3 linked regions of the Homo sapiens genome follow. The protein of the gene in region 3 interacts with the protein of the main gene of each other region in a pairwise test. Each region holds a gene or a part of one and is shown on either strand. Other genes may lie near its edges. The genes, in order: SEMA4A, ZNF394 and DDX54.

What was found.
Region 1: the proteins of DDX54 (region 3) and SEMA4A interact in a two-hybrid assay, tested with the Homo sapiens proteins (one large-scale study listed by BioGRID and IntAct).
Region 2: the proteins of DDX54 (region 3) and ZNF394 interact in a two-hybrid assay, tested with the Homo sapiens proteins (one large-scale study listed by BioGRID).

The regions. Positions count from the first base shown.
Region 1 is NC_000001.11:156,152,198-156,156,384, reverse strand, and holds the start of SEMA4A (semaphorin-4A isoform 1 precursor), read right to left. Parts: upstream 2,801-4,187; 5' UTR 2,621-2,800; intron 1,838-2,620; exon of another isoform or gene 1,836-1,837; 5' UTR 1,807-1,835; coding exon 1,668-1,806; intron 1-1,667. UniProt on the Homo sapiens protein: Cell surface receptor for PLXNB1, PLXNB2, PLXNB3 and PLXND1 that plays an important role in cell-cell signaling. Regulates glutamatergic and GABAergic synapse development.
Region 2 is NC_000007.14:99,494,833-99,497,332, forward strand, and holds part of ZNF394 (zinc finger protein 394), read right to left. Parts: intron 1-2,500. UniProt on the Homo sapiens protein: May be involved in transcriptional regulation.
Region 3 is NC_000012.12:113,168,291-113,172,019, forward strand, and holds part of DDX54 (ATP-dependent RNA helicase DDX54), read right to left. Parts: intron 1,615-3,729; coding exon 1,480-1,614; intron 1-1,479.

The sequences.
Region 1 (4,187 bases), on a different chromosome or scaffold from region 3:
TGAGGACTTGGTGGGCAGGCAGCTGACTCCTGAGATAAAAGTGGGGGAAGGGGAAGGGTTGCCTGAGTGTGCTCCCCAGGCCTTGGCAGCTAGATGCACTCTCCTCCACCAGCAGTTCTTCCCTTCACCCCACCCCAACACAAGAGCGTTGTGTGCTGAGCCCGCAGTAGAGAGGAGAGGCAGCCAGAGGCAGGGTAATGGGGACGGGAAATAAAGTGAGGCACAGTGGATGCTCTTCCAGGCCTGGGACAGGGAGGGCTACCGTCGGGGAGGACGCCTTGGTCCTCACTAGGATGAGGAGCAGCAGGCAGACAGACAAACAGGAAAGTGTTGGCAGCCACAAGCAGCAAAGCTATATGCAGACAGGAGGGCGTATGTCAGAGTCCCTCTCGCCATCCCCCCAACCACCCCTGCTTTCTTCCTCTTCTGTTAAAGGAAATTCCCACCAGTAGAGTCACCACGAACAGAGAGGAAGCATTTTTCTTCAAAGATCCATGTGGGCATGGCTGGATGTCCCCTGGGCAGGGATGGTGAGCCAGGTGTGGGAGGCTCACCTAGGTCCTCTCCATGACCTTGGCATGGTGGGGTGGGTGGGGGTGTATTTTCCTGTCCCACTGGCACATCGGCAAGGAGGAAGGAGCTCCTCAGATCCTCTCTCATTAGCACTTGCACTGTTGCATTAGTTAGAAAGCTGACTAGCTAATTGATACCTTTGCAGGCTCAGGGAATCTTACACAGTACAGAGGGGAGAAGTTGGGGAATCTGGTGTGGCTGCGGGATGGAAGGGCCAGCCTCAGGGAGGAGCATCTCCTGGAGGCCAGGCCTCCCCCAGAGCTGCCATAAACCCCTCAGTTGCTGAACAGATCACCCTGTATTGATGGTCTGATTGCTCATGTCTTCCCCCTTGTGACTGTGAACACCTTGAGGGCAGGGGCTGAGGCTTATCCGTGTTTGTGCGCCCAGCATCCAACACAGAGGAGGTCTCTGCATCAATGAGCAATATACATTTCTTTTACCAATTGCCCCAGAAAGATGCTAAAGACACAGCCATGCCCAGTCACCTACAACTCCTACAGTGTCTACATCCTTTCCTGAGTCTTCTCCCTGGAGGTGAGGGGGCCAGCAGCCTCCACAGTCTCAGTAAGAAACCAGCCAAGCTGTGCTTGTGTGTGGGTTCCAGGGCCCATTCTCCAACCAGCCATCCCATGGTCCTGGACATGGTATGGTCCAGCATGATCTATGTGGTTGGCATGGGCCTGGCGAGCTCCGGGTCACCGGGTCCACATATGGTCTTCTAGCATGGGCCTTGACTTTGGGGTACCTGGGAGTGTGAAGCAGTTAGGAGTTTGAGGTGCCCAGCTTGGTGACAGTGATATTTAAGGAAGGAAAGAAAAATTACCAACATGGAGAACTGGAAGAAGCGTGCCCCTGGCCCCGTGGCCACCTGTTTTCCTCAATCTGCTCTCCAGTGGCTTTTCTTTCCTTTTGGACTTCTGTTTCTGGCTGTGTCTCTCTTTCTCCGAGATCCTCTGTTTCTCCCTGGCATCTCTCTCTGTGTCCCTGTTTCTCCATATCCATTTCCTCCCCTCCTCTGTTCCTCTCTCCTTCCTCCACCCACCTCCAGCTCTCTATTGCTATCCCCACACTTCCTGCTGTCGGACACTTACCTGCATAGTATCTGACCCTGGGCATGGGCCCCTGCCCGCCTCCCCCCGCGGTCGTCGTCGGCAGCAGCAGCTGAAGCAGTTGGAAGAGGAAAAGGCCCAGGAGGCTCCAGGGGTCCAGGCCCAGGGCTGGGAGGGCCATGCTCAGCCACAGACTGTCACCAGGGAGCTCTGGGGAAACAGGCACCCGGGCACTTTCTGGGTGAGCAGTTCTTACCACATCCCCCCGAGGACCAATAGGAGAGCCCCAGGCAGCAGAAGCGTGTGTATTGGTGGCAGGGGTGGGGCATTGGGGCAGAGAAGGTTCCCTATCTGGAAGGGCCCTAAGACGGTCTCACTTTCATCATCCTTCCAGGCCTCAGCCTGTCACCTCACTGTCCCCTATGGGTAGGAGCCCAGGTCTCCCCTATCCTGCTTCTTCTGTTGTCTTCTCACCAACAGCTCTGGTTTGCCTTTTTTTGCCTTACTCTCAGGAAGTCTTTCCTGTCTTTCCTCCTTTGCCTTCCCTCTTCTCATAGCCCAAGCCCAAACCGTTGCCTGGCTCTGGGCAGGGAACATTTTGGGGAGCAGGTTCCTGTACCCAAAATATAAATTCCTCAGACCTTACTCTCCTGTCACTTTCAGATCTGTTGACACCTGTGCCTCATACTCAGCTCTGACCCAGGTAGGCAGACTGGGTTTGAGTCTGCCTGCTCTAACCTCTCCCCCAGCCCCAGCTGGGTTCAGGGTCTTTGAGGCTCAGGCCTGCCTGGCCTGATACTTCCAGGGAGGCAATGAGGGTCCATCCCACCAGGTTGGTTATCAGCATTTCCCGGGGAGCTGCCTGGGCAGGGGTGGCTGGCCGGCTCCCAGCCTCTGCAGCTCCCCGGCCCCCTTGTCTCTTGCTCCTGTGTCTGCCTCCCTGGGCCTCTACATAATCTTCCCCAAGACCACCCACCCCAAGCCACCCATCTCACCTCACATACCCTTGAACCAGCCACAGTGGGAAACTCGGTGTCTGGATTCTAGGGCGGGGGTGCCATTCAGGAGAAAGAAGAAGGGGGGTTCCCAGGCCCCAGAGGCAGGGGACAGAAGGCTCAGCCTGGCTGGAACGGGAGTGCGGCCCTCCAGGTGCCCATCATGCCAAAGCCAGCACTGGGAGCTCTAGGCCAGGGAAACCGGAATTTCCACCTCTCGAGTTGTGACAGATCCTGGCTTGGGCGGAAGTTGGTGGATTGGGAGGGAATAAAAAGACGTTCACCCACCTCACAAGAGACACACCTCTCTCTCCCTCCTCTGCTCGGTCCAACCAGAAAGTTTAAGAGGCCCTTCTAGGTCATTTCAGCGATTCCCCTGCCTCTCCATCATGTCACAGCCAGTATAACCAGCCTAGCAGTGGTTTCTTCTCTTGCTTAAGATTTCCCAGATAGGGGACATGACATATTCTTCTTTTCACTTACCCACAAGGTGGGGTCTCTCTACTCCTACCTACTGGGAAGTCCCTGCAGTGGTCTAACCTTTAAACCTCCCACTCTCAGCTGGGCCACAGTCTTTAAAAAAATAAAATAAAATAATTGTATTAGGCTCTTATCCATGATTTTGCTGAGGAAGTCCCCCTTGCAGTCTAATCTCCATCACTCTTTGACATCAGGCCAATAGGAAGCCCAGAAATCAGGCCAGTAGAAAGCCCAGAACATTTCCCATCTGAACTCGTGCTCACTGGACCACACTTTGGAGGCACCCAACCCCCAAAGGTGGCTGCTCACCCCTCCCTAAAGGCTCCAGGGGGAGCCTCATAACGCGGGGTTAATGAGGCATCCAGCGCCAAGAACTCTGTGGCCTACAAAGTGGGTAGGTTCCTGCCCACTCGACATGGTCAGCTGACTGCAGGTTAAAGAGCACAGACATCCCAGGGCTAATCCAACTCTAATAAATAATCCACTTCCATCTGACATGCACATTCCTCCCTGGCAGGAAGTCCTTCCTGTAGTGTAACTTCCATCCCTCCTGCTACAGCACCAGCCAACATGGGGGATGTTACAGCTCAGGCTACTCCTTATAATTCCTCATCTGAGGTACTCAGCCTTCTTTCATCTCTCTCAGTTTCCCCGGGGGTTGGTCTCAGACATATCCTGCCTGACAATCGTTTCTGTCAAGACTTGCCTAGGACTCCCCCAGACTCTCCCAGAGGCTGGTTGCCAGGTCCCTTCCAGTTTCTTAGAATCAAGAGAAACTCCCATTTATCCAGACCCTACCTTCTGTGTCTCCCCAACCCCCAGCTCAGATTTGGGAAGCCAGTCTGCCCCTGGGCCTCTCTGCTTAAACAGATTGGCTCATTTGGGTCACTGGGAAGAGTTCTGATACGGGGAGGCTGGGGGAGTTCCAGCCCTACACTCCCAGCCTGATGTCCTATTCCCACCTTTCTGGAAGTCATAGACTCCATGCCCTGCCCCCAGTTCTTCCTCCAGACATCCAGAATTCTCCCAACTCCGGACGTCCTCTTCCCCAGCCCCTCTAGCCAATATGAATAGTTCACACTATCAG
Region 2 (2,500 bases), on a different chromosome or scaffold from region 3:
CAACTGATTATCCTACCTCAGCCTCCCAAGTAGCTGGCATTACAAGTGCACGCCACCACACCCAGCTAATTTTTGTATTTTTATTAGAGATGGGGTTTCACCATGTTGGCCAGGATGGTCTCTATCTCTTGACCTCATGATCCGCTCGCCTCAGCCTCCCTATTTATTTATTTTGAGACAGAGTATTACTCTGTTGCTATTTATTTATTTTGAGATGGAGTCTCACTCTGTTGCCCAGGCTGGAGTGCAGTGGCATGATCTCGGCTCACTGCAACCTCTGCCACCTGGGTTCAAGTGATTCTCCTGCCTCAGCCTCCCAAGTAGCAGGGATTACAGGTGCTAATTTTGCTAGTTTTAGTAGAGACAGTGTTTCACCATATTGGCCAGGCTGGTCTTGAACTCCTGACCTCGTGATCCGCCTGCCTCGGCCTCCCAGACTTCTGGGATTACAGGCGTGAGCCACAGCACCCAGCCTATATTTTATTTTATCGTATCTTATTTTATTTTTGAGATGGAGTCTTGCTCTGTTGCCTAGGCTGGAGTGCAGTGGCATGATCTCAGCTCACTGCAACCTCTGCCTCCCAGGTTCAAGTGATTCTCCTGCCTCAGCCTCCCAAGTAGCTGGGATTACAGGCACCCACCACCACACCCGGCTAATTTTTTTGTATTTTTAGTGGGGACGAGGTTTCACCATCTTGGCCAGGATGGTCTCGAACTCCTCTGACCTTGTTATCCACCCCCCTCGGCCTTGCAAAGTGTTGCGATTACAGGCGTGAGCCACCACACCCAGCTATTTTATTTTTTTGAGATGGAGTTTCGCTCTTGTTGCCAAGGCTGGAGTGCAGTGGAGTGATCTCAGCTCACTGCAACCTCTGCCCCCCAGGTTCAAGCAATTCCCCTGCCTCAGCCTTGAGAGTAGCTGGGATTACAGGCAACGTGCCACCACACCCGGCTAATTTTTGTATTTTTAGTAGAGATGGGGTTTCACCATGTTGGTCAGGCTGGTCTCAAACTCCTGACCTCAGGTGATCCACCTGCCTTGGCCTCCCAAAGTGTTGGGATTACTGGCATGAGCCACTGCACCCAGCCTATTTATTTTATCTTTTTGAGACAGAGTCTCACTCTGTCACCCAGGTTGGAGTGCAATGGCGTGATCTCGGCTCACTGCAACCTCCACCTCCCAGGTTCAAGTGATTCTCCTGCCTCAGCCTTCTGAGTAGCTGTAATTACAGGTGCCCATTAACTGGCCTGGCTAATTTTTGTATTTTTAGTAGGTATTTTAGTAGGTATTATAGTAGGTATTTTAGTAGGTATTATAGTAGGTATTTTAGTAGGTATTATAGTAGGTATTTTAGTAGGTGTTTTAGTAGACGGGGTTTTACCATGTTGGCCAGGCTGGTCTCGAACTCCTGACCTCAAGTGATTCACCTGCCTCGGCCTCCCAAAGTGCTAGGGTTATAGGTGTGAGCTACCTCGGTCTCCCAAAGTGCTGGGATTACAGGTATGAGCCACCACACCCGGCACAAGGGAGCAATTTGAGCAAAGCCCTGAAACTTTGCTTCCTACAGAGTAGAGTAGAATATTCCAGGCAGAGCGGTCACATAGCACAAAGACCAGGAGGCAGCGGGGCCTGGCATATTTTGGAGCAGCAAGGCAGTGTGGCCAGAGCAGGCAAAGGGCAGCAGAAGGGATGGGTGGGTGAGCAGGGTGCCAGGGCCCCTGCACATCAGGCATCAGAGGTCCGGCTAATTTTTGGTATTTCTAGTAGAGACGGTGTTTCACTATGTTGGCCAAGCTGGTCTTGAACTCCTGACCTCATGATCTGCCCACCTCGGCCTCCCAAAGTGCTGAGATTTACAGGCCTGAGCTATCACGCCCGGCCAAAATGTATTACTATTTTTTTTATTAATTTTTTTTTTTAAAGAGATGGGGTCTCGCTATGTTGCCCAGGCTGGTCTTGAGCTCCTGACCTCAAACAATCCTCCCATCTGGGCCTCCCAAAGTGCTAGGATTACAGGTGTGAGCCACCGTACCCAGCCAACAGCAAATGTTGACAAGAATATGGAGAAAGAAAAATTATTAGTATTGCTGGTGGCATATACATTAGTTATGGGCTCTTTGGAGAGCAAGATGAACATACAGTTGTTCCCTCTTCTCTGTGGGGACACGTTCCAAGTCCCCCAGTGATGCCTGAAATTGTGTATAGTACCAAAGCCTATATATATATGTGTATATATATGTATATACATACATACGTGTGTGTGTGTGTGTGTGTGTGTGTGTGTGTGTGTATATATATATATATATATGTATATATATATATAAAATGTTTTTTCTTTTTTTTTTGAGACGGAGTCTTGCTCTGTCACCCAGGCTGGAGTGCTGGAGTGCAGTGGCACGATCTCGGCTCACTGCAACCTCCGCCTCCCAGGTTCAGGTTCACGCCATTCTCCCGCCTCAGCCTCCCGAGTAGCTGGGACTACAGGCGCCTGCCACCACG
Region 3 (3,729 bases):
TCTGAGGGCTGCGCTCTCTGCTGACCACTGGCTAGGCTGTCCGGAGGAAGCCGCCTCAGCTCTCTGAGCTTGAGTCTTGGGCCTCTGGGGGGGCCTGAATCTCAGCTCCCCACCTCCCTGCTGTGTGCATGCGGGTAGGCCTGTCAGAGCCGTTCTCTCATCTGTGAAGCAGAGGTGATGACAGCCCTCCCTCTAGCACAGATGGACAAATGAGACAAGATGTGTCCAGGGCCCGGGAACCAGCAGGACTGCAGGTGGAGGCCCATAGTTGGAGGCCCACAGATGGAGGCCATGGTGATTGCTATTGTCTGTCCCATGCATTCCCATTCTAGGATGTATACAGAAATGTCCTGTGGGCGGCTGGGCACAGTGGCTCACGCCTGTAATTCCAGCACTTTGGGAGGCCGAGGCGGGCAGATCACCTGAGATCAGAAGTTCAAGACCAGCGTGGCCAACATGGTGAAACCCTGTCTCTACTAAAAATACAAAATTAGCTGGGCGTGGTTGTGTGTGCCTGCAGTCCCAGCTACTCGGGAGGCTGAGGCAGGAGAATCGCTTGAACCCAGGATGCGGAGGTTGTGGTGAGCCAAGATTGCACCACTGCACTCCAGCCTGGGCAACAAGAGCGAAACTCTGTCTCAATAAATAAATTAAAAATGTCCTGTGGGCTTGGTCTGAATGAGCCTCAGCCTCTCTTTCCCTCCGCTGCGCTCCCCTGAAAACTCATCAAGTATAGGGTCACACACTAGATGCCTGCAGGGGCTGGGCAGGCCACACTGACAGGAAGGGGAGGCAGGCAGGGGCTGCAGGGGACCAGGAAGCCTGTCTAATGGGGGTGCCACAGCTTAGCACCCAGATCCAACTGTTTCCCAGTAGATACCAGAAATCTGGATTGTTGTGGGAAATCCTGAGTTTAAAATAGAGGGATTAGCCAGGCATAGTGGCTTGCTTGAGCCCAGGAGTTGGAAGTTGCAGCGAGCCATGATCGCACCACTGCACTCCAGCCTGAGCAAGAGTAAGACCCCGTCTCGTTAAAAAATAGAAGGAATCAGCCGGGCGCAGTGACTCACACCTGTAATCCCAGCACTTTGGGAGGTGGGCGAATCACTTGAGGTCAGGAGTTCGAGATCAGCCTGGCCAACATGGTGAAACCTTGTCTCTACTAAAAATACAATAAAAAATTTGCCAGGCGTGGTGGCGGGCATCTATAGTCCCAGCTACTCGGGAGGCTGAGGCAAGAGAATGGCTTGAACCTGGGAGGCAGAGGTTGCTGTGAGCCAAGATCACACCACTGCACCCCAGCCTGGGCAACAGAGCGAGGCTCTGTCTCAAAAAATAAACAAAACAAATAAAATACAATAAAATAAATAAAAGGAATCATCTTCTGCTGGGGTCAAACCCAGCCCTACCTCCTCCCACAGCCAAAACAGGGCCCATGAACTCCACGGGGACCCCTATCCCCACCCAGCCTCCACTCACCTGAGGGCTCCTTGAGGGGTCGGGCGAGGGTGAGGGAGCGGCCCAGGAACAGGTGCAGATCCAGCAGGTAGGGGATTTCATCAGGGGCCACCAAGGAGTAGGCTGTGCCACTTCGGCCAGCCCGAGCCACACGGCCTGCAGCAAGGAGACGTTCAAGCTTAATTAAGCAAAGAAGGACCCGGACCCAGCATGAGTTCCACAGGCCAGACCCTGAGCAGGTGAGCCTGGCCAAGCCTCGAACCTCACACGGCTGCTGTCCCCACCTACGCACAGGGAAGTTTAATCCCGGTCCCTAGGTTGATCTGTGAGAGTGTGCCCAAGCTGACACAGTGCTCTGGGAGACTAGCAAAAATACAGCAAGGCCCTGCTCATGAGCATGATCAAAACTCTTCAGTGTCCCCACTTTTGAGAATTCCCCGCAAAGATGTAAAGATTCACACACAAGGAGGTTTAGTGTGGCCCTGACTAGGACAGCCCCAAGTTGGAAACTAAAGTCTCAAGGGTAGAGGACTAGATAAGTGAATTAGCTGATGGCCACACAGTGGGAATTAAACAGCTCAGGAAAAGAGTGGGCAAACTGCAGCCTACAGGGCCAGGCTGGTGGCTCACGCCTGTAATCACAGCACTTTGAGGGGCTGAGGTGGGAGAATCACTTGAGGCCAGGAGTTCGAGAACAGCCTGGGCAAAATAGCAAGACCCCATGTCTACAAAAAACGAAAATTAGCCAGATGTGATGGTGTGTGCCTGTAGCCCTAAGTACTTGGGAGGCTGAGCTGGGAGGATTGCTTGAATCTGGGAGTTCAAGCTTACAGTGAGCTATGATCATGCCACAGCACTAGAGCCCAAGCAACAGAGTGAGATCCCGGCCCCCTGCTTGTCTGTGTAAATAAAGATTTATTGGAACACAGCCACACTCATTTGTTTATATATTATCTATATAAATGAATAGGCAGCAGTCACACGACAGCAGCAGAGATGAACAGTTATGACAGAGACAGTATGGTCCACAAAGCCTAACGTTTCATGTCTAGCCCCTTACAGAAAAGATGTGCCAACCCATCACAGAATGACATTTCATAGTAAACGAAAAACATTCGTGATGTATGGTGATGTAAAAAGAAAAAAACAAAAAGCCAGTTATAAAAAAGAACACCCAATATGATTGCAATTTTGCATGAAGTACCTAAATCACTACATAGCATTATATTTTGGTTTGTCTCTGTATCTTGGGAAAACAAGGTGTTATGACATTTGGAGATTTCATTTGAGGTTGTCTGACCGGCACTGTTGGTCTTGTGAGGCACAAGAAATTCCCTTTGGGGGCGTCCTGGGGACCTCCCTAGGGACATGCAGAACCAGCTCTCCACACAGCAACAGAAACTAGGGGACAGCAGACAGCAACAAGGGGGAAGTGCACCCACCACATGACACTTATGAATTAAAAGAAGGCAAAGAAAGTAGAATAACAGTTACCAGGGGCTGCGGGAGGGGAATAAGGAGATTTTGTCTGACGGATAGAGCTTCAATTTTGCAAGATGGAAAAGTTCTGGGGCCAAGCATGGTGGCTCACGCCTGTAATCACAGCACTTTGGGAGGCTGAGGCAGATGCATCACTTGAGGTTAGGAGTTCAAGACCACCTTGGCCAACATGGTGAAACCCCTGTCTCTACTAAAAACACAAAAAATTAGCTGGGCCTGGTGGCGAGCACCTGTAATCCCAGCTACTCGGGAGGCTGATGCAAGAGAATAGCTAGAACCTGGGAGGTGAAGGTTGCAGTGAGCCGAGATCACACCCCTGCACTCCAGCCTGGGGTACAAAGCAAGACTCTCAAAAAAAAAAAAAAAAGTTTTGGGGACAGATGGTGGTGACAGTTGCACAATGGGAACAGACTCAATGCCACTCCACTGCACACTGGGAAATGGCAAAATGCTGAATTGCATGCTATGTCTACTTTACCACAACTTAAAATAGAAACATCAGAAGAATGGACACACACCAAAATGACGGCCATGTCATCAGAGAGCAATGGGGGACAGTGATCTCTGAAATGAGACCACAGCTGTTCCGTGACTTACGAAGGGCTGCGTCTCAATAAACCCAATAGCCGTCAAAAACACACGCACGGCACCTAACCCACTAAACATCGCAGCTCAGCCAGCCTGCCTTGAGCATGCTCCAAATACTTCCATTAGCCTACCCTTGGGCAAAATCATCCCACACATAGCCGATTTTAAAATAAAGTGTTGAGT